Linked DNA regions of Homo sapiens: region 1 is linked to region 2. The links come from fine-mapping of genetic effects on gene expression. A gene starts in region 2. The other region holds a variant in brackets. All regions are shown on one strand. Distances are between the middles of the regions. Region 1 overlaps PCNX4-DT (PCNX4 divergent transcript). Region 2 holds the start of DHRS7 (dehydrogenase/reductase 7).

Evidence for each region.
Region 1: its variant is fine-mapped to the expression of DHRS7 in whole blood (INTERVAL, PIP above 0.99).

The regions. Positions count from the first base shown.
Region 1 is chr14:60,070,286-60,081,311 of GRCh38, forward strand. The region is part of intron 1 of PCNX4-DT (PCNX4 divergent transcript); the gene reads right to left. Among named protein-coding and RNA genes, the nearest start is that of PCNX4-DT, 16 kb to the right of the region's middle. The variant C/A (reference allele first, on the strand shown) is at 5,506.
Region 2 is chr14:60,161,540-60,172,407 of GRCh38, forward strand. DHRS7 (dehydrogenase/reductase 7) reads right to left here and starts at 3,859. Exons shown (of 7, transcript NM_016029.4): 1 at 3,638-3,859. The coding sequence starts at 3,770. RefSeq lists enhancers at 3,323-3,382, 3,573-3,622 and a silencer at 3,823-4,092.

The DNA.
Region 1 (11,026 bases), 91 kb before region 2:
GCCTAGACACCTGACACCTCGTTTACAGCAAGATGTTAATGTCAGGTTAGAGTTGTGACGTGCAACATGGAAACAGACTTGAATTCTGGGAGCTATATTTTTAGTTTCATAAAAAAGCAAAGCAAAACAAAACAACTGGGATTGAGAGAGTTCTAGTTTATCGTTGCTTAGATAGCACTCCCTATACCTGGCTATGGGCCAAGAAGATTTATTCTGAACAAAGAGAAAAGTGGGATTAGAACACCGGAGGTCTTTGGTCCCATTAAGAATCATACCCCACAAATAAATAGAGATAGCTGGATCATATAACTGTGCTCTTCTCAATTGACGTTAAAAATGCCACAAATAATTTAACATTTAAACACATTTTTTTTCCTGTAACTTTCACAGAACTTCTTGGCTGTATCTTTAACCTACTAATCAAAAGAATTTCCTCAAGTTCACATTTATAGATGTTTTTAATGAACATAATTTTCTTCTGTATTCAATAAACATGTAAAGAATATTGATGACTATGGAAAACACCAAAGTAATAATTGCTGTGGTTAAGAATCATCTATGGATACTAAAATTAGTAGATGACAGTATAAACAGGGTATTTGCATGGTCTCTAAGAATTTCCCTACAAGATACTTTTTAATTACAAATAGAAAAAAATATTAACTGTGCAGTGGAAAAAACTGATAAACACCTTAACCAAGAGATCAAATTTAATATCACCAAAAAATAAGATATATCAATATCCTGATATGATGCACTGATAAGGGCACAAAATCATTCTGTAGTATTCCTGCCAAAAATACCACATGATCATGAGAATGAGAATGATCTGATCATGAGAAAATATCAGACAAACCCAAACTAAGGGACATTCCACAATATAATCGGCCAATAAGTCTGGCCAAAAGGAGTCTAAAAAGATCAAGGGCATTGCATGATAAGGACTGAGGAAGTCATATTGGAGGAATCTAAGAAACATGATAACTAAGTATAATATACAAGATCTTGGATTGGATCTTGAACCAAAAAAAGGGCATTAGTGGGAAAACTGTTGAAATTCAAATAAAGTCCATAGATTAGTTAACAGTATAACTGTTAATTGCTAAGTTTCAATCATTGCTATATAAAATGTTAACATTAGGAAAAGCTGGGTGAGGAAATCACCATATTTAAAACTTTTCTGCATGTTCAAAATTATTTCTTTAAAAACAAGAATTTAAATTTTGAAATATAAATTATTGACAATGATCCTGATTCAAGGGTTATTTTACTGGTGTAGAAGCAAAAGTATAAGGGAGTGAGCCCAACCACCATTTTATTTCACACATTCTTCACAAATTCTGGAAAGTCTTCAGAATCTTCCATATTTTATTTTGATATCACAATCTAAAAGTAATATAAATTAGTTTACTTTAAAAATATACATTCCTTTTATAAGTAAGAATTTAAACTCATTTTGAAGCCATCATATCTTGAAAATAACTAAGTGGGAATTTTTGTAAGAAAACCACTTTATTCAGGCAATTAGAATGAGTGTAACAATACGATAAAAACTGTATAATTATTAAATAAAATATGTATTATATTAGGATCATTTTTGTTCCAAATTTTTACTAGTTGAACTAAATTTTTATTAGTTGAACTAAAAATTTACAAATTAGTCCCAAAACACAAAATAAACTGTTTTATCTAGAAAGATGGTAAATTACTTAGAGATAGTCAAAAGAAGTAGAAATTGTGGAGGAGACAGCCAATTGCCTCCCGGGCCTGTTCTGTCATTCTCCCTTAGTAAAAGAACCCTGATTATTAGCTAGGAATAGTGCTTCTCTTGCAGTCAAATGTGGCCCTTTGTTTTGGCAAATGACTTATATGTGGTAGTGTGGTATGGAAACTTACTGGAAGTCTTCTTAAAAAGGAAAGGAAGAAAAATTTCCCTTCCATTCATACTGTAGCTTGGGAAAAGATTATGATGGAGGAAGTCTGGCTGGACCAGGAGGAAAAAGACCTTAAAGATGACAGCATAATAAATGGGACTGTCCCACTAGCCCATAGAACTGCCATTCTGACCCTCGAATAATTAACTTATACGGCAAGAAGTAAGTTTATATCGGTTAAACCACTGTTATTATGGTTTCTCTGTTACAAGAAGTACAACCTAATCCTAACTGATACAGGAATGTTCCCAGAAAAGAGATGTGAAGGACTTTTGTACTAAAATTATAGCAGAAAGATACAACTTAACGAGAAATGAAAAAGCAAAGAACAAAAGTAGATTTTATGGAAGAGCATAAATGGGATAATGGCAAAATGAAAGCAGCAATTGGTTCTGAATGAGTCATAAAAGAAAGTCACTGAAAGTGGTTTAATGTCAGTATAAAAAGGAGGTCATGAAAGAATAAACTCTAGAATTTGAAGCTGTTAAATACATTAAGATGAAAAAGAAATCATACTTAAATTCACCAATTATTAGCATCTTAGAGAAAATAATTGTACCTCAAAATATCTTGGCTAAAAATTATTAGCGGAGAGTATCACTCAGTGGCTTTTGTTGCAAGCAAAAGAACATTACTCTGGATATAGCTCATAGGATAGTTCACAGAACAGAAAGGCTGAAAAACCAGGCTCATAGAATGAGAACAAGCGGAGTATAGTGGTCAATACCCCAGACAGTATCATGTCACAGGATCACCTTAATTATGGTGCCAGTGCCATGCTGCTGCCACAGGCATGGGTGCCACTAGATGAGTGCAATAAGGCCTTGATGTTTCTGTTGCCATCAAAATGAATTCTAAATATTCCTGCTTCTTTGCTTCCCATGTTCTACACTGAAAGGCCCAGGAAGAAGATAGCTAAACTTAGGTTGCCCGCCACAAACTTTAGTTATTAAAGAAAAGCAGGGGGTGGCTGGAAAGATGGCCAAATAGGAACAGCTCCAGTCTGTAGCTCCCAGCAAGATCAACACAGAAGGTGGGTGATTACTGCATTTCCAACTGAGGTACCCGGCTCATCTCATTGGGACTGGTTAGACAGTGTGTGCAGCCCATGGAAGGCAAGCAGAAGCAGGTGGGGCACTGCCTCACCAGGGAAGCGCAGGGGTCAGGGAACTCCCTCCCCTAGCCAAGGGAAGCCTTGAGGGACCGTGCCTTGAGGAACACTGCATTCCAGCCCAGATACAGGCCTCTCTCACAGTCTTTGCAACCTTCAGACCAGCAGATTCCCTTGGGTGCCTACACCACCAGGGCCCTGGGTTTCAAACACAAAACTGGGAGGCCGTTTGGGCAGACACCTAGCTAGCTGCAGGAGTTATTTTTTCATACCCCAGTGGTGCCTGGAATGAGAGCGACACAGAACCGTTCACTTCCCTGAAAACGGGGCTGAAGCCAGGGAGCCAAGTGATCTAGCTCAGTGGATTCCACCCCGATGAAGCCCAGCAAGTTAAGATCCACTGGCTTGAAATTCTCGCTGCCAGCACAGCAATCTGAAGTCAACCTGGGACACTCAAGCTTGGTGGGGAGAGTGGTGTACACATTACTGAGGACTGAGTAGGTGGTTTTTCCCTCACGGTGTAAACAAAACTGTCAGAAAGTCAAAACTGCCAAAGCTCGGCAAAGCCACTGTAGCCAGACTGCCTCCTCTCTGGGCAGGGCATCTCTGAAAGAAAGGCAGCAGCCCCAGTCAGAGGCTTATAGATAAAACTCCCATCTCCCTGGGACAGAGTACCTGGGGGAAGGGGCAATGGTGGGCGCAGCTTCAGCAGACTTAAACATTCCTGCCTGCTGGCTCTGAAGAGAGCAGCAGATCTCCCAGGACAGTGCTCAAGCTCTGCTAAGGGACAGACTGCCTCCTCAAGTGGGTCCCTGACCCCTGTGCTTCCTGACTGGGAGACACTTCCCAGCAGGGGTAGACAGACACCCCATATAGGAGAGCTCTGGCTGGCATCTGGCGGGTGCCCCTCTGGGATAAAGCCTCCAGAGGAAGGAACAGGCAGCAATCTTTGCTGTTCTGCAGCCTCCGCTGGTGATACCCAGGCAAACAGGGTCTGCAGTGGACCTCCAGCAAACTCCAGCAGACCTACAGCAGAGCGGTGTGGCTGTTAGAAGGAAAACAAACAAACAGGAATAGCATCATCATCAACAAAAAGAAACTCCCTCTGAAGGTAACCAACATCAAAGACCAAAGGTAGATAAAGACCAAAGGTAAATAAATTCACAAAGATGAGGAAAAACCAGCACAAAAAGGCTGAAAATTCCCAAAACCAGAACACTTTTCCTCTAAAGGATCACAACTCCTTGCCAGCAAGGGAACAAAACTGGACAGAGAATGAGTCTGAGGAATTGATAGAAGTAGGCTTCAGAAGGTGGGTAATAACAAACTCCTCTGAGCTAAAGGAGCATATTCTAACCCAATGCAGGGAAGCTAAAAACCCTGAAAAAAGGTTAGAGGAATTGCTAACTAGAATAACCGTTTAGAGAAGAACATAAATGACCTGATGGAGCTGAAAAACACAGCACAAGAACTTTGTGAAGCATACACAAGTATCAATAGCTGAATTGTTCAAGCGGGAGAAAAGATATCAGAGATTGAAGATCAACTTATGAAATCAAGCATGAAGACAAGATTAGAGGAAAAAGAATAAAAAGGAATGAACAAAGCCTCCAAGAAATATGGGACTATGTGAAAAGACTAAACCTACATTTGACTGGTGTACATGAAAGTGATGGGGAGAATGGAACCAAGTTAGAAAACACCCTTCAGGATATTATCCAGGAGAACTTCCCCAACCTAGCAAGACAGGTCAACATTCAAATTCAGGAAATACAGAGAACACCACAAAGAAAAGCAGCCCCAAGACACATAATCTTCAGATTCACCAAGGTTGAAATGAAAGAAAAAATGTTAAGGGAAGCCAGAGAGAAAGGTCAGGTCGCCCACAAAGGGAAGCCGATCAGACTAACAGCAGATCTGTCTGCAGAAACCCTACAAGGGGTTAGGGGGGCAATATTCAACATCCTTAAAGAAAAGAATTTTCAACCCAGAATTTCAGATTCAGCCACACTAAGCTTCATAAGCAAAGGAGAAATAAAATGCTTTAGAGACAAGCAAATGCTGAGAGATTTTTTAAAATTTTTTTATTTTTATTTATTATTATTATACTTTAACTTCTAGGGTACATGTGCACAACATGCATGTTTGTTACATATGTATACATCTGCCATGTTGGTGTGCTGCACCCGTTAACTCGTCATTTACATTAGATATATCTCCTAATGTTATATCCTCCCCCTTCTCCCACCCCACAACAGGCCCCTGTGTGTGATGTTCCCCATCCTGTGTCCAAGTGTTCTCATTGTTCTTCCCACCTATGAGTCAGAACATGCGGTGTTTGGTTTTCTGTCCCTGTAATAGTTTGCTCAGAATGATGGTTTCCAGCTTCATCCATGTCCCTACAAAGGACATGAACTCATCATTTTTTATGGCTGCATAGTATTCCATGGTATATATATG[C/A]CACATTTTCTTAATCCAGTCTATCATTGATGGACATTTGGGTTGGTTCCAAGTCTTTGCTATTGTGAATTGTGCTGCAATAAACACACGTGTGCATGTGTCTTTATAGGAGCATGATTTATAATCCTTTGGGTATATACCTAGTAATGGGATGGCTTGATCAAATGGTATTTCTACTTCTAGATCCTTGAGGAATCGCCACACTGTCTTCCACAATGGTTGAACTAGTTTACAGTCCCACCAACAGTGTAAAAGTGTTCCTATTTCTCCACATTCTCTCCGGCACCTGTTGTTTCCTGACTTTTTAATGATCACCATTCTAACTGGTGTGAGATGGCATCTCATTGTGGTTTTGATTTGCATTTCTCTGATGGCCAGTGATGATGAGCATTTTTTCATGTGTCTGTTGGCTGCATAAATGTCTTCTTTTGAGAAGTGTCTGTTCATATCCTTCACCCAATTTTTGATGGAGTTGTTTGATTTTTTCTTGTAAGTTTAAGTTATTTGTAGATTCTGGATATTAGCCCTTTGTCAGATTTGTACAAATTTTCTCCCATTCTGTAGGTTGCCTGTTCACTCTGATGGTGGTTTCTTTTGCTGTGCAGAAGCTCTTCAGTTTAATTAGATCCCATTTGTCAATTTTGGCTTTTGTTGCCATTGCTTTTGGTGTTTTAGACATGAAGTCCCTGCCCATGCCTATGTCCTGAATGGTATTGCCTAGGTTTTCTTCTAGGGTTTTTATGGTTTTAGGTCTAACATTTAAGTCTTTAATCCATCTTGAATTAATTTTTGTATAAGGTGTAAGGAAGGGATCCAGTTTCAGCTTTCTACATATGGCTAGTCAGTTTTCCCAGCACCATTTATTAAATAGGGAATCCTTTCCCCATTGCTTGTTTTTGTCAGGTTTGTCAAAGATCAGATGGTTGTAGATGTGTGATATTATTTCCAGGGGCTCTGTTCTGTTCCATTGGTCTATATCTCTGTTTTGGTACCAGTACCATGCTGTTTTGGTTACTGTAGCCTTGCAGTATAGTTTGAAGTCAGGTAGTGTGATGCCTCCAGCTTTGTTCTTTTGGCTTAGGACTGTCTTGGCAATGCGAGCTCTTTTTTGGTTCCATATGAACTTTAAAGTAGTTTTTTCCAATTCTGTGAAGAAAGTAATTGGTAGCTTGATGGGGATGGCATTGAATCTATAAATTACCTTGGGCAGTATGGCCATTTTCACGATATTGATTCTTCCTATCCATGAGCATGGCATGTTCTTCTATTTGTTTGTGTCCTCTTGTATTTCACTGAGCAGTGGTTTGTAGTTCTCCTTGAAGAGGTCCTTCACATCCCTTGTAAGTTGGATTCCTAGGTATTTTATTCTCTTTGAAGAAATTGTGAATGGGAGTTCACTCATGATTTGGCTGTTTGTCTGTTATTGGTGCATTTATCCTTTGATAAAATTCAACACCCCTTCATGCTAAAAGCTCTCAATAAACTAGGTATTGATGGAACGTATCTCAAAATAATAAGAGCTATTTATAACAAACCCACAGCCAATATCATACTGAATGGGAAAGAGCTGGAAGCATTCCCTTTGAAAACCAGCACAAGACAAGGATGCCATCTCTCACCACTCCTATTCAATATAGTATTGGAAGTTCTGGCCAGGACAATCAGGCAAGAGAAAGAAATAAAGGGTATTCAGATAGAAAGAGAGGAAGTCAAATTGTCTCTGGTTGCAGATGACATGATTGTATATTTAGAAAACCCAATCAACAGCCCAAAATGTCCTTAAGCTGATAAGCAACTTCAGCAAAGTCTCAGGATACAAAATCAATGTGCAAAAATCACAAGCATTCCTATACACCAATAATAGACAAACAGGGAGCCAAATCATGAGTGAATTCCCATTCACAATTGCTACAAAGAGAATAAAATACCTAGGAATACAACTTACAAGGGATATGAAGAACCTCTTCAAAGAGAACTACAAACCACTGCTCAAGGAAATAAGAGAGGACACAAACAAATGGAAAAACATTCCATGTTCATGGATAGGAAGAATCAATACCGTGAAAATGGCCATACTGCCCAAAATAATTTGTAGATTCAATGCTATCCCTATCAAGCTACCATTGACTTTCTTCACAGAATTATAAAATCTACTTTAAACTTAATATGGAACCAAAAAAGAGCCTGTATAGCCAAGACAATCCTACGCAAAAAGAAGAAAGCTGGAGGCATCACGCTATCTGACTTCAAACTATACTACAAGGCTACAGTAACCAAAACAGCATGGTACTGGTACCAAAACGGAGATATAGACCAATGGAACAGAACAGAGTCCTCAGAAATAACTTCACACATCTACAACCATCTGATCTTTGACAAACTGGACAAAAACAAGCAATGGGGAAAAGGACTCCCTATTTAATAAATAGTGTTGGGAAAACTGGCTAGCCATATGCAGGAAACTAAAAGTAGACCCCTTCCTTAAACCTTATACAAAAATTAACTCAAGACGGATTAAAGACTTAAACGTAGGACCTAAAACCATAAAAATCCTAGAAGAAACCCTAGGCAATACCATTCAGGGCATAGGCATGGGCAAAGACTTCATGACTAAAAAACCAAAAGCAATGGCAGCAAAAGCCAAAATTGACTACTGGGATCTAATTAAACTAAAGAGTTTCTGCACAGCAAGAGAAACTATCATCAGCGTGAACAGGCAACCTACAGAATGGGAGAAAATTTTTGTAATCTATCCATTGGACAAAGGGCTAATATCCAGAATCTACAAGGAACTTACACAAATTTACAAAAAAAAAAACAACCCCATCAGAAAGTGGGTGAAGGATATGAACAGACACTTCTCAAAAGAAGACATTTATGCAGTCAACAAACATATGAAAAAAAGTTCATCATCACTGATCATTAGAGAAATGCAAATCAAAGCCACAATGAGATACCATCTCATGCCAGTTAGAATGGTGATCATTAAAAAGTCAGGAAATAACAGATGCTGGAGAGGATGTGGAAAAATAAGAATGCTTTTACACTGTTGGTGGGAGTGTAAATTAGTTCAACCATTGTGGAAGACAGTGTGGCAATTCTTCAAGGATCTAGAACCAGAAATACCATTTGACCCAGCAATCCCATTACTGGGTATATTCCCAAAGGATTATAAATAATTCTATTATAAAGACATATGCACATATTGCGGCACTGTTCACAATAGCAAAGACTTGGAACCAACCCAAATGTCCATCACTGACAGACTTGATAAAGAAAATGTGGCACAAATACACCATGGAATACTATGCAGCCTTTAAAAAGGATGAGTTCATGTCCTTTGCAGAGACACAGATGAAACTGGAAACCATCATTCTCAGCAAACTTAAACAGGAACAGAAAACCAAACACCATATTTTCTCACTCGTAAGCAGGAGCTGAAAAATAAGAACACATGGACACAGGGAGGGAAACATCACACACTGGGGCCTGTTGTGGGGTGGGGGGCAAGTGGAGGGATAGCATTAGGAGAAATATCTAATGTAGATGATGGGTTGATGGATGCAGCAAACCACCATGGCACATGTATACCTATGTTACAAACCTGCACCAGAACTACAGTATATTAAAAAATATAACAATAATAATACCTTCACAGCAAAAAAATAATTAAATAAAAGCACATGTATTTTTTAACATCTGTGATGGGGGATGTGGCCTGCCTTCCCACTAAAGCTCTCACAGTGGAAAATTCCAGAAAGGACAGGGATTCAAATGCTGCACAGCCAAAAAGAGACAAACATGCAGTACATCAAATGATTTTAAATGGACAGAAACATTGGTTTGTAATGTACCTAGAATTTTTTAAAAAGTTGCTTCACTATAAGGTGGGGAAACATTGGTATAATAGACTATGGGAATTGTTCTTCTTTTCTGCCTAATTTTCCCACCCCCCTTTCTTCAGAATCCTTTGGGAAATATCTCCTCTATGCATTAGTGCTGGGGCTGCTAATCATAGGATTATGCACACAGAACCTGAAATTGAGATATGGACATTGGTAGAGAGTTATTTGGTTTATTTCCTACATTACAATTGCTTAACTGGGAGATTTGAGTTTGTCTGGCAGCCATTTGTCTGCCACTAGGGGAGACTCTAAAAGAATAAAGCAATGCAAACAAAGAGCTGCAGAGAGAGTCTTCACAGCAGTATTTGAGTCTCCAGATGCACTCTTGCCATAAGATGCACTCTTGCACTTCCCAATTACATGAACCAATAAATCCTTTTTGGAGGAGTTGAATTTCTGTCACTTGCAACCAAGTATTCTGACTTTGTGCAATCATAAGATCTAGGAGTTAATAAGGTCAGTATCATTTGAGTCCCAAAATTACAAATATTTGAAGAAATACAGTTCAAGATAAGAGTGGGATAGGAAAGATATTTGAAAAACAATTCATAATGTAGATTATTTTTAAAAGCTAAGACAATGCAACCTCTCTTAGAATCAAAGGAACAATGGCTTGAGAAGAGAGCTGTGAAGTTAACAATTCCTTGAGAATATAAAAAACATCAAAAGCATGAGTAGAACACATAGCTGTAAACTATACCACAGAAAATTCATGTTTAAGAATTTCCTTTACCACTAAAGAACTTATCCATGTAACAAAACTACCTTTACCCCCAAAACTATTGAAATAAATTTTTTAAATTAAAAAATATAGGAATTTCCTAATAGAGAAGAAATAATCAAATGTTTCATTATTTTTTAAAAGATTAGAATCTAGCCTGCTTAATACAAAGCCTAAATAATACTGTAATGAAAGTCAAAGGATCCATTCGAGACAGATCTTTCACTACGTATCTATATAATCAATTTATCTGAACCTGTGGTGTCTTACCTCTAAAGCAAGTGTGGTGGTTAATACTGTCAACTTAATTGGATTGAAGGATGCAAAGTACTGTTCTTGGGTGTGTCCATGAGGGTGTTGCCAAAGGATACTAACGTTTGAATCGGTGGACTGGGAGAGGCAGACTCACCCTCAATCTGGGTAGCCACCATCTAATAAGCTGCCAGCGTGGCTACACTGGTGGAGTCTTCCTGCCTTTATCTCTCTCCCATGCTGGATGCTTCCTGCCCTCAAACATCAGACTCCAAGTTCTTCAGCTTTTGGACTCTTGGACTTACACCAGTGGTTTGCCAGGGGCTCTAGGGCATTTGGCCACAGACTGAAGGCTGCACTGTTGGCTTCCCTACTTTTGAGGTTTTGGGACTTGGACTAGCTTCCTTGCTCCTCAGCTTGCAGATGGCCTACTGTGGGACTCCACCTTGTGATCTTGTGAGTCAATACTCCTTAATAAACTCTGCTTTAGATATACATCTACCCTATTAGTCCTGGCCCTCTAGAGAACTCTAATACAGCAAGCATCTCTTTCACTTCTAAAATTGTGACAATATTCAAAGTTCATTTCAGTCTAACAATTACATTTTCTGCTACTATCTACAGTCATGAGCTTAGACAAAAA
Region 2 (10,868 bases):
TAAATAAACCTATCCAATTTCTGCCACCTTCCCTCACATGACATGGTATCAGGTTTCCTCACTCTTCTGCTCACACCCACCTGCACCAATTCTAGTTGGTTAATGTTCCTCTTTATTAAAGGGAGCTGGCTAGGGCAGGACACAGGATTCGGTAGGGTCTGGACAGTGCAGAGCAGGATGAGATGTCAAAAATCACTTCCCTTGTCCCCCAGAAGGTAGGGTCTATGAGGGCCTGGACTGTGGCTGATTCAGTCACTGCAGTGTCCCCAGTGCCCCAGCACAGAGGCCGGCACATACAAGCAGCTAGTCAGGAGACATCTGTTGTTTGCAGTTGTTGCTTCAGACACTGAGGTCTACAAATGCAACCCAAGGTTGCCTGATCTTTTCTGGCAGCCACTTCACAGTTGACTCCTATTGAGGTTACTGTTAACAAAAACCTGAGTTTTGCTCACATGTGCTGCTGTTGAAATTTTTCCTCCTCTAGACTTGTGCCATGGATTTTTCTGGACCATTTTAATGTCTAAAATTAGTCACCCTTAAATTTCACCATATGTGGCTGGGCTTGGCAGTTCACATCTGTTATCCTAGCACTTTGAGAGGCCAAGGTGGAAGGATCACTTGAGGCCAGGAGTTCAAGACCAGCCTGGAACATAGTGAGAGCCTGTTTCTACAAAAAGTTTAAAAATATCCAGGTGTGGTGGTTTGCACCTGTAGTCCTAGCTACTGGGGAGGCTGAGGTGGGAGGATTGCCTGAGCCCAGGAGTTCGAGGCTGCAGTGAGCTATGATCATGCCACTGCACTCCAGGCTGGGTGACAAAGCAAGACCTTGTCTCTCTATTAAAAAAAAAAAAAAATCACCATGTGAGATATATGCTTGGAAATGCACAGAATTTCTCTAGACGGATACAGAGGAGGCAGGAAATGGTGGCTGCCTCGAGAGAAGCACACTAGGTAGCTAGGGCACAAGGGTCAGAGAAAGCTCTTTACTTTTTACTATATATCTTTTTGTATTTTTACTTTTGTATTATGTGAGTGTGCTATTTTTTTAAGTGACAAAAAATAATAAACCTACAGAGAAGTCAAGAAGGATTTTTTTTTCTTTTTTCATCTTGATAGAGTCTGCCCATCTCTCCAGTCTGAGCTGTTTTGGGAATCTGAGTCTATTTCAATTTTCCTTTAATCTTTTCTTCTTTCTCACTCCCTACCTCCACCAGGAGTCTTTTTAGACTTTTTTTTCCCCTAAAACTCTCCTGTGAAATGTTAATTCCACAGATATACTGTATATCATTTATGTACTGTACATATATCTGTGCTTTATACATAAAAGGAGTTCTATAAAGTTTACTCCTGCCAGGCGCAGTGGCTAATGCCTGTAATCCCAACACTTTGGGAGGCAGAGCGGGGTGGATCACCTGAGGTCAGGGGTTTGAGACTAGCCTGGCCAACATGGCGAAACCCCAGGTCTACTAAAAATACAAAACTTACCCATGCGTGGTGGCACGCACCTGTAATCCCAGCTACTAGGGAGGCTGAAGCAGGAGAATCACTTGAACCCAGGAGATAGAGGTTGCAGTGAGCCAAGATCATACCACTGCACTCCAGCCTGGCCAACAGAGCGAGACTCTGTCTCAAAAAAAAAAAGAAAAAGAAAAAAAGCTTACTCCTTAGTTAATAAGCATATGACTAAATAAGCATATGACTAAATTTTAAAATTAAGTTAAATGTTAAATTAAAATTTAAAAGTTATTAACTTCTAACTTTATAACTGTATTTGCTGAAAAACATTTTTATGGTTTTTGAGACAGTGTCTCACTATGCTGCCCAGGCTGGTCTTGAACTCCTGGGCTCAAATGACCCTCCTACCTTAGCCTCCAGAGTAGTTGGGATTGCAGGTACATGCCACCACGCCAGATTTTTGCTGAATAACTTTTATGTAACTTACTTAGATAAATAGCAATTTATCAAACTACATGTGCAAATTTGCAAATTATATAACTACATAATGATAACAATGTAATTAAATTTAAAATCCTTCAAACTGTTCTTTTCCGACAAAACACAACTGAAAATATTAAATGAATTTCTTAAAATTTTCAATGATCTTAACTTTTAACTTTTCCTTAATATGAGAAAATAACTTTTAACTTAGTAGCTTAGAGATATTCATTCAGATGTTGTCAATAATTTTGCTTTTTAGCACTTGACATAATTTGATGGGTTGAATATTTTTTGTAGGATTAAATAATAAAATATAATCTATTTTCGTTTAATTCTCCAAGTCCAAGTGAACACAAAAGCACTAAAGATCAAACACAAACAACGTCTGCAAGGCAGCCAATGGCAGCCAATAGGCACACATATTCCCCCGCTGAGGTGGAACAATCGATCAAGAGAAAGCCCTTGGTTAATGAAGTTGTGCAGTATTTGGGATTCCTGCTTTAAAAGGAGAAAGCCCAATCACTTGCCATAGTTTTGTAGCACTGCTGTGGCGTCCATGTTGTGTATTTTTCGTGAACTCAATGTCAGTGCTGCACATGCTATACCCAAGAAAACCCAACCAGAAAAATGAAATACTAAGGAATAATATTTTCTCGGGTGGGGTTAAGCTTTGGAGGGGCACAAACCACTGTATTACCAGATTTTTTTTTTTTTTTTTTTTTGTCCACAGGAACCAATTCTCACCTTGGGATCAATATCACCCCCCTCAACGCCCAACCCATAACGCCCCCCCCAAACATAGTCTATCTTTCGAGCTACTATCTCTTCCAAGCAAACTTTGTAACATGCTTTGAGTATTTTTATACCAGAAACTTGGTCCAGGGAAACCCCATTTCCCCAAGTCCTTAAGGATCCAAAGCCTAGCTTTCGGTAGGTCATTTAATTTCTCTGAACATCAGTTTCCCTATCTGGAAAATAAGATTAATAATGCCTACCTTGTAAGAGTTGTTGTAAAAGTTAAATGTTATGTGTGTAAAGCGCTGAGCCAACATACAGCAAATGTACACGATGTCAAATATTAAGCAAGACACAGATAAAGTGAGATAGGCAGTATGCCAATAATGATCTCGCTCCAGCAAACTGCCATTTTTAGTTCTTTCTAGTGTTTGACTAGAATGAGTAAGTAGGTGAAGGACTTCGGATTATCTCAGATTTTATTTCAAAACTGCAGGAGTGGGAAGTGGAGGACAGACTACTTCAGGTAGTAGAACGACCGGGCTTCCGGTACTTACAAAGGAGTTTCCCTTACAAACGCAGGGGGACGCTCACTGTTTCTCAAAGTATCGTCCTCTGAGACAACACCAGAATCCCTTGAGTCCTGCGTAAGATGTCAGAGTCCTCAGGAGCACCGCCGACTCCAGTGCTCTCTTAACAGTTTGGCACTCCCTGGAGAGGTTTCCTAGCCTGAATGGCAAGTCCATGCCATCTTCCGACCAGTACAGAAGACAAAGGGGCTTTTTAGCCCTCGCCTCTTCCTCCCCAACCCGCAGCCCCTGCGTAAGGGGCAGCCGGGCCTTCGGGAAGCTCCACGCAACCCACAAAGGACCCGGGATCACTGCAGAACCCCCGGAGACCCGGACACGCCTCGGCAGCTCCGAGCCCGGCCTCCCACTCGGGAGAGGCTTTGGCCGGTCCTCACCTGGGCGTCGTCCCTGCCACTCGGCCCATAGTAGCGTCAGGTCGCCGTCAGCCCTCAGGAAGCGCAGCAGCTGCACCAAGAGCAGGAGCAGCGCGCACAGCACCAGCAGCCACAGCAGCAGCTCCCAGTTCATTGCGGCCGCGCACGCCCAGCTCGGGGGGAAGAAGACGGCCCGCACCAGAGTCGCGTCGCTGCCCTGCGGGATCGCAGCGCCACCCCTTCGGCCAGCCCAGAGCCGCACTGCCCCGGCTCCGCCCAGGGAGCAGGCCGGGAGGAGGAGCGGCTCGGGCGCGCCGGGCTCAGCACTCGCGGCCCCACTCGCGGTCCTTGGGCGGCCCGCGCCCTCATGCGGCACACCCGGCGGGGCCGGCAGATTGCTTGAATTCAAGTGTCCGAGACCAGCCTGGGCAACATGAGGAAACCCTGTGTCTACCAAAAATAAATAAATAAAATTCCAGTATTTTTAAAGAAGCTGATTCAAACATAAGCTACATATTATACTACGTTATTTCCTCTCTGTACAGGGACACTATCAACGGCCAGGAGACAGATAGAATCATTCTTGCTTGGCCCCTCTTCTCCATTCCTATTCAGAAAGAACATCCCCTTTTCAAGCTTCAGTATCTTTTCATGAGGTCGAGAAAGTGCTGAAGAAAGACTGTGGCTATCACTCAAGACCCCACAAGCCAAGGCAATGGTCCCTCCATGGGGACAAGGTCCTTTTACAATTAGAGAAAAAAAGACTGAAGCCATGTGCTGTGTTGGCACCTTACAACCTGATTCTGACCACACACAAATTTACTCTGGTGTCTGTTTGGCAACCAAAGCCTAGGTTGGTACCAAATCCTCCCCTTACCCAAGCCATTATTCACATCCTAATGTAAACAGCAAATAAAAACAGAGAATGTAATGAAAACACCAAGGTCTTGCCTACTCTAATACACAAAAGAGTAAAATACTGTTTTTGATTAATTTCCGTTTGAAATGACCTTCAAAACATTTAATTGCTTCCCACTAAATACCTACATGTATTTGAGGCATCAATAGTAGCATCTTTCTTGTTTTCAAGCATTTGAAAGCAAGAGGGTTTTCCATTCACAAGCCTCAGAGGGACCCAGTTAGAGTGCATAGAAACTAGGCCATGTATGAGAACGACCTGTGGCCAAATGGAGAAAGTTCTGGGCGTTGATGCAGTAGAACTTTCATCCTCTTCATTTCCTAGAGTACTTTGTGTGCTCTGATGTCAAAGGCTCTTCCTTGGCTGAAACTAAATATGACTTTAAAACAGTCATGGAAATAAAAGAAGCAGTGACTTCCCTCCCCAGTGTTGTTTTCTTTTTCTAGTCTTGCCTGCCAAACTTTTGTTTTTCTTTAAATGTTTTGAAGAATGTTACTTGCAGTAATCAAATTTCCTTAAATAGCTCTTCCTTCTCTTTTTAAATCCTATTATAAACCCCCTACCTGCCTCCCCACCCTCATCCTTCTCTAAAAAGCTTTTTGGGGTTATCTGGACTCAGAGTCATCTTTCCCTAATCTCACCTCTTTTCACAATTACTTCTGAACTATATCTGAAATTGTTTTTTAATTATTTTCAGGGTTAATATAGTATTGTTCCAATGGAACTTTAGAATCCTTGAAATAAAGTAGCAAATCTGATGCTTCTTTTGAAGAGTCTGGAATACATAGCTTAGTGTTGACATGAGAAGCAATAAGCCCACGTTGATTGAATTCTCCTTTCCTTGAAATTTAAACCTCCTTGATAGAGAGTAGAAGGATAGTTACCAGAGGCTGAGAAGAGTAGTGGGAGGGTTGGGGGGGACGTGGAGATGGTTAACGGATACAAAAAATAGAAAGAATGAATAAGACCTAGTATTTGATAGTGCAATGGGGTGCCTATAGTCAATAATAATTTAGTTGTATGTTTTAAAACAACCAGAAGAGTATAATTGGATTGTTTGTAACATAAAGGATAAATGCTTGAGGGGGTGGATACCCCATTTACCATGATGTGATTATTACACATTGTATGCCTGTATCAAAGTATCTCATGTACTCCATAAATATATACACCTACTGTGTACCCACAAAAATTAAAAATTAAAATTCAATTTTTTAAAACCTCCTTGAAGTTCGGAAGTTAATGTTAAAATGAGAGTTGCTAGCATTTAATAAATCAATCTTCTCTAAGTATTATTAAAATGCTTTGAATAAAGTCCGAAAGTCTTTTCTATAACTGGTAACCTTCATTTTTAATTCCAGATGTAATAGAATGGTACCCTGCCTTCCCTCCTTTTAGTAATGGTCACTTTTGATGGTCTGGGGTCAGGCCCATTCATGGCAGCTAAGGCCCATTCATGGCAGCTAAGGCCCATTCAGGTCAGCTAAGATGAAGGCAGTTGTGCGTAAGCAATTGCCATCTTCCATAACAAAAGCATTATACAAAAATAACTTTAAAAATCCAGATCCTCCAAGATCGGCAGTCCCTAGGCGGGGGAAAAAAAGAGTGAGTGGAAACTGTGAGTGGAAACAGGGACTGAGGAATCTAGGGAGGGAATATTCTTCCTCAAGAACAATAAGGGGTTTGTGGTTTTTGATTGAGGATGTTTTCACATCCCTTAGATGCTTTTGGAAATGTGTTGGATGAACAGTGGCCATAGTGCCAGCTAGCCAGGGTGTCATCAGAGTGCTAACGATCTGGGCACTATGTAAAGACATACCCAACAAAGAATTGCCCTGCCCCAAAAGCTCACAGCACCCTTACTCAGAAATCCTGCAACCTGGCCACGGTGGAGAGGAGCTCTGCAATCTATTAGCAGCCTCCCTCCACAAGCTCTGGCTTACACCTGCCTGGCTGTACCCCAGCTACAAGCGTTCAGGTCATGGTCTAGTTTTCTGATATTCTTCAGGCAGACAAGGTCTTACCTAGAGTCTTATTTATAAGAAAATATAACTTACTTTCTTACCTTTAGTAATCTCATGGGATCCCTCAATAGGAATATCTCACTGCACTGTTCACCACATGCAGTTCCCCATATCAGTGCATTGATATTTTGTTTAGATTAGCCAATTTCCACAGTATCTTGGGTCTCTTAAACATAAGCAGTTTATAGCTCTCATTCTCTCTCCCTTAAATGCTCTGTTTCAAACTTCCCTTTATATATCTTGTCCATGATTTAGTAGTGGTGGTTGTTATTCTAATCTAGAACTTCAAACACTCATGCACACATGAGTACATGCAAAGCTGGTGAAATTTGAACGAGGTCTGTGGATTTTGCCAATACCAATTCCCTGGTTCTGTTATTGTTCTAAAATTATGTAAAATTTACTAGTGGGGAGAACGGGGTACAGAGTACACGTCTGTTCCATCTTTGCAACTTCCTGTGAATCTATAATCATTTTAAAGTAAAAAGTTAAAAAAATTAGGTTAAATTTCTTAAAATATGCAAATATTTTCTTAAAATTCTAAAACTGATCAATGCTTTTTCCTCTCCTTCTCTTTTTTCTCCCCTCTCCAGCCAGGACCAGCCTTGGAGATAAGCAGAGTGAACAGAAATTTATGGTCTCAGATTTAAGAAAAACAAAATTCTTTCTTGCTTCTTAAATCATACTCCATCCCATTGGCTTGCAAACATGCTGACACTCCTCATAATTTCACTCTTCATAAACCAAAGCATAAGGTCAGAGGAGAACTTGACATATTAGAACACTTAGGCATTGAAAGTGGTTAGTCTAACTAACCCATTGAAGTTTTGGAGAACCTGGGACTCAAATTTTGGAAGATGTGACAGATGATATGTTAACATACATTGCACCGAGGCTGAAGTGGGAGGATTGCTTGAGACTGCCTGGAAGGCAGAAGTTGCAGTGAGCCGAGACTGATGGTGTCACTGCACTCCAGCCTGGGCAACAGAGCAAGACCCTGTCTTAAAAAAACAAAACAAACAAACAAAAGAAACCAAAAAAAAAAAAAAAAAAAAAAAAAAAACCATTGCACCAAGTAACAGTCAACTTTTCAGCAGAGGTGAGTAGAGTTAATCAGTTAAGGCTTTCTGGAATACCAGCCCACCTCAAGGCCTTGTACATACTGTTCTCTCCACATAGAGGGATGGCCAGAAATCCCCCAGATGGATCCAACAATGCTCACCTCCTGTGTGCAAACCACCATGTATTTCCCTCCCAGGTTGTATCAGGGTTGATCACTGTAACCAGCAGAATGCTGCAGAAATGATGAGTGTGTGACTCCCAAGGATAGGTCACAGAAGCTATTGCAGCTTCTACCTCTTGCTCTCTCTTGTTTATACCTTTACTAAAGTATAATTCGAGTACAAGAAACTGCACATATTTAAGGTATACAACTTGATGAGTTTGTCAAATATATACACCTGTGAAACCATCACCACAATCAAGGTAAACATTTCAATCACCCCCAAAAGGGGTGACCCTTTGAAATCCACCCATCCTCCACCCCTTCCCTAGGCAGCCACTGATCTATTCTCTGTCACTGTATGGAAACACCTTACCTGTTTCCTCTGTGGGATGTAAAGTCCCATTTCTGGATCCTTTCAGGTCCCTGTCTAATGTCTATTCTCTTTGCCTTGCCCTTACTTTTGTTCAGATCAACTTTAGCCTTAGCAGGGAATTTGGTTTTGTAATTCCGAACCCTAAGCAGTCTTGGATTGCTGTCTGCTGAGATGGGGCATGAGAGCAGTGAGGAGCGTGATCTCTTTTAACAAAGCCGTATGCTGTTCCCAGCTATCTAAGACCAAGGCTTATCTCTTTCTAGTAGGATCTTGACAGGAGCCACAAGAAGTAACCAAGACAACAAGAGTTAACCTGTCCATATGCTTTCTAATTGCCAGGCCTATTCTAAGTGCTTTATATATATTAAATCCCTTAATCTTCACAATAATCCAGTTAATTAGGTACTATTTTAATTCCCATTTCCCTGATGAGGAAGCTTAATTGTGATTAAGTAACTTGCCCTAGGTCACACAGCTAGGAGACAGGGTCTTTGAACCTAGGTAGTCTAATTTCAGTCTTTGCTCTTGAACCACCATATAATACTGCCTCTCACACCAGAGCAGCCTAATTTTGTTCTGCTGGATTCCCTGAAGCTTCTACCTTAGTATGTACAGGTCTGAATCCCAAAGAAACTACAATAACATCTTAATGAGCTGCTTCATTACCATATCATAAAGACTGCCCACTTCCCACCCAGGGATGGAGGGAGATGGAGAGAGCCTCACTGCCTCCTACTCCACCTTGACACAGTAGTTCACATTTTAGGATATTTCATTTCTAGCACTCTACTTCTGGGTACCAATGTCTCAATCAGTCGGTACTCTCAATCGCAAATGGCAGAGACCCACTAAAATTAGCTTACGAGAAATGTTAAGGAATGTATTTGTGCCCCCATAGGTAAATCCCCTACCCTAAGGATGTGGCCTGCCTCTGCAACCAACCTGAGGTCCAGGTGAAAACCACTAACCTGTGGGCCAGGAGCCCAAGCACAGCACTGAGGCCTGTTACTTGGAGACAGAAGTGCTCAGGCAGAGTCCAGGGTCATTACCTTCATTTGGTAAGAATTTTGATGTTGATTTCTAGTGTCTAGAGACCTCAATATCCAAAATAAACATTAATATATTAATTTTCTAGGGCCGCCATAACAAAATATCACAGACTGGATGGCTTAAACAACAGAAATTTATTTTCTCACAGTGCTGGAGTCTAGAAGTTCAAGGTCAAGGTGCTGACAGGGCTGGTTTCCTCTGAGGTCCCCCTCCTTGACTTGAAGACCACCCCCTCTCCTTGTCTCATACCTCAGAAAAAGAAAGAGAATTCAAAAGTTACAGAAAGGCAAAAATAAGATCAATAGTCAGACAGCCCACTGCAGCACCTCCAGCCTGGTAGTTAAAAATCAACCCCTGACCTAACTGCTTGTATTATCCATAGATTCCAGGCATTGTGTGAAGAAGCATTGTGAAATTTTCTGTTCTGTTCTGTTCTGCTCTGTCTTGATTACCGGTGCATGCAGCCCAAGTCCCATACCCCATGCTTGCTCAATCGATCACAACCCTTTCACGTAGACCACCTTAGAGTTGTAAGCCCTTAAAGGGGGCAGGAATTTCTCTCCCAGGGAGCTCGGCTTTTGAGATGCAAGTCTGCAGAAGCTCCCAGCTGAATAAAGCTCCTTCCTTCTTTAACCCGGTATCTAAGGAGTTTTGTCTGTGGCTCGTCCTGCTATAGCAGATGGTCGTCTTCTTCCTGTCTTCACATAGTCTTTTCTCTGTGTGCATCTGTGTCCTAATCTCCTCTTCTTATAAGGACATCATCAATCATATTGGATCAGGGCCCACTGACATGACCTCGTTTTACCTTAACCACCTCTTTAACAAGCTCATCCCCAAATACAGTCTCATTCTGAGGTACTAGGAGTTAAAACTTCAACATATTAATTTCAGGAGAACACAATTCAGACCATCACAATAAACAAAAAATAAAGCTGAATTTATTGCTTAGGTATATAAGGGAGAGCTATGCTGACCAGGCCCAGTCTCTCTAAGCAGATCAGGGAACTGATCTTAATACAGCTCTGCAGAAGCATGGAGTTTGGTGACTGGCAGAGTAGGTTGATGTCAGCTGAAGAACTGTAGTTACTTGAGTGAGACTTTAGTAGATTGGCACTCAGTGGTGTGTTCATTGAAGCAGTCCATTCCCAGGTGGTTTGCTTTCACAAGCAAGGGGTTTTCGCTGCTGGGTTGGCTTCCAGAATCATGCTTGCAGAGGTGAGTTGTTGACGGATTAAGTAGATTTAAAATCATTTCTGGTGGTTGATCTTGTATCCTGGCTGTAAATTTTTCCTAGGAGTGTGGGAACTTTTTAAAGTTTTCACTAGTGTCAAAATAATACTTAAGTTGGGCGTGGTGGCTCACACCTCTAATCCCAGCACTTTGGGAAGCAGAGGTGGGAGGATTGCTTGAGCTCATAAGTTTGAGACCAGCCTGGACAACGTAGCAAGATCTCATTTTTATAAAAAAATCAAAAAAATTAGCCAGGCATGGTAGCACACACCTGTAGTCCCAGCTACTCTGGAGGCTGAGGCAGGAGGATCACATGAGCCCAGGAGGCTGTGGTGAGCCATGATTGTGCCACTGCACTCCAGCCTGGGAAACAGAGCAAGAGCCTGTCTCAAAAAATAATACTTCAGAAAGAGTTAGTTATTGCAAGTAGA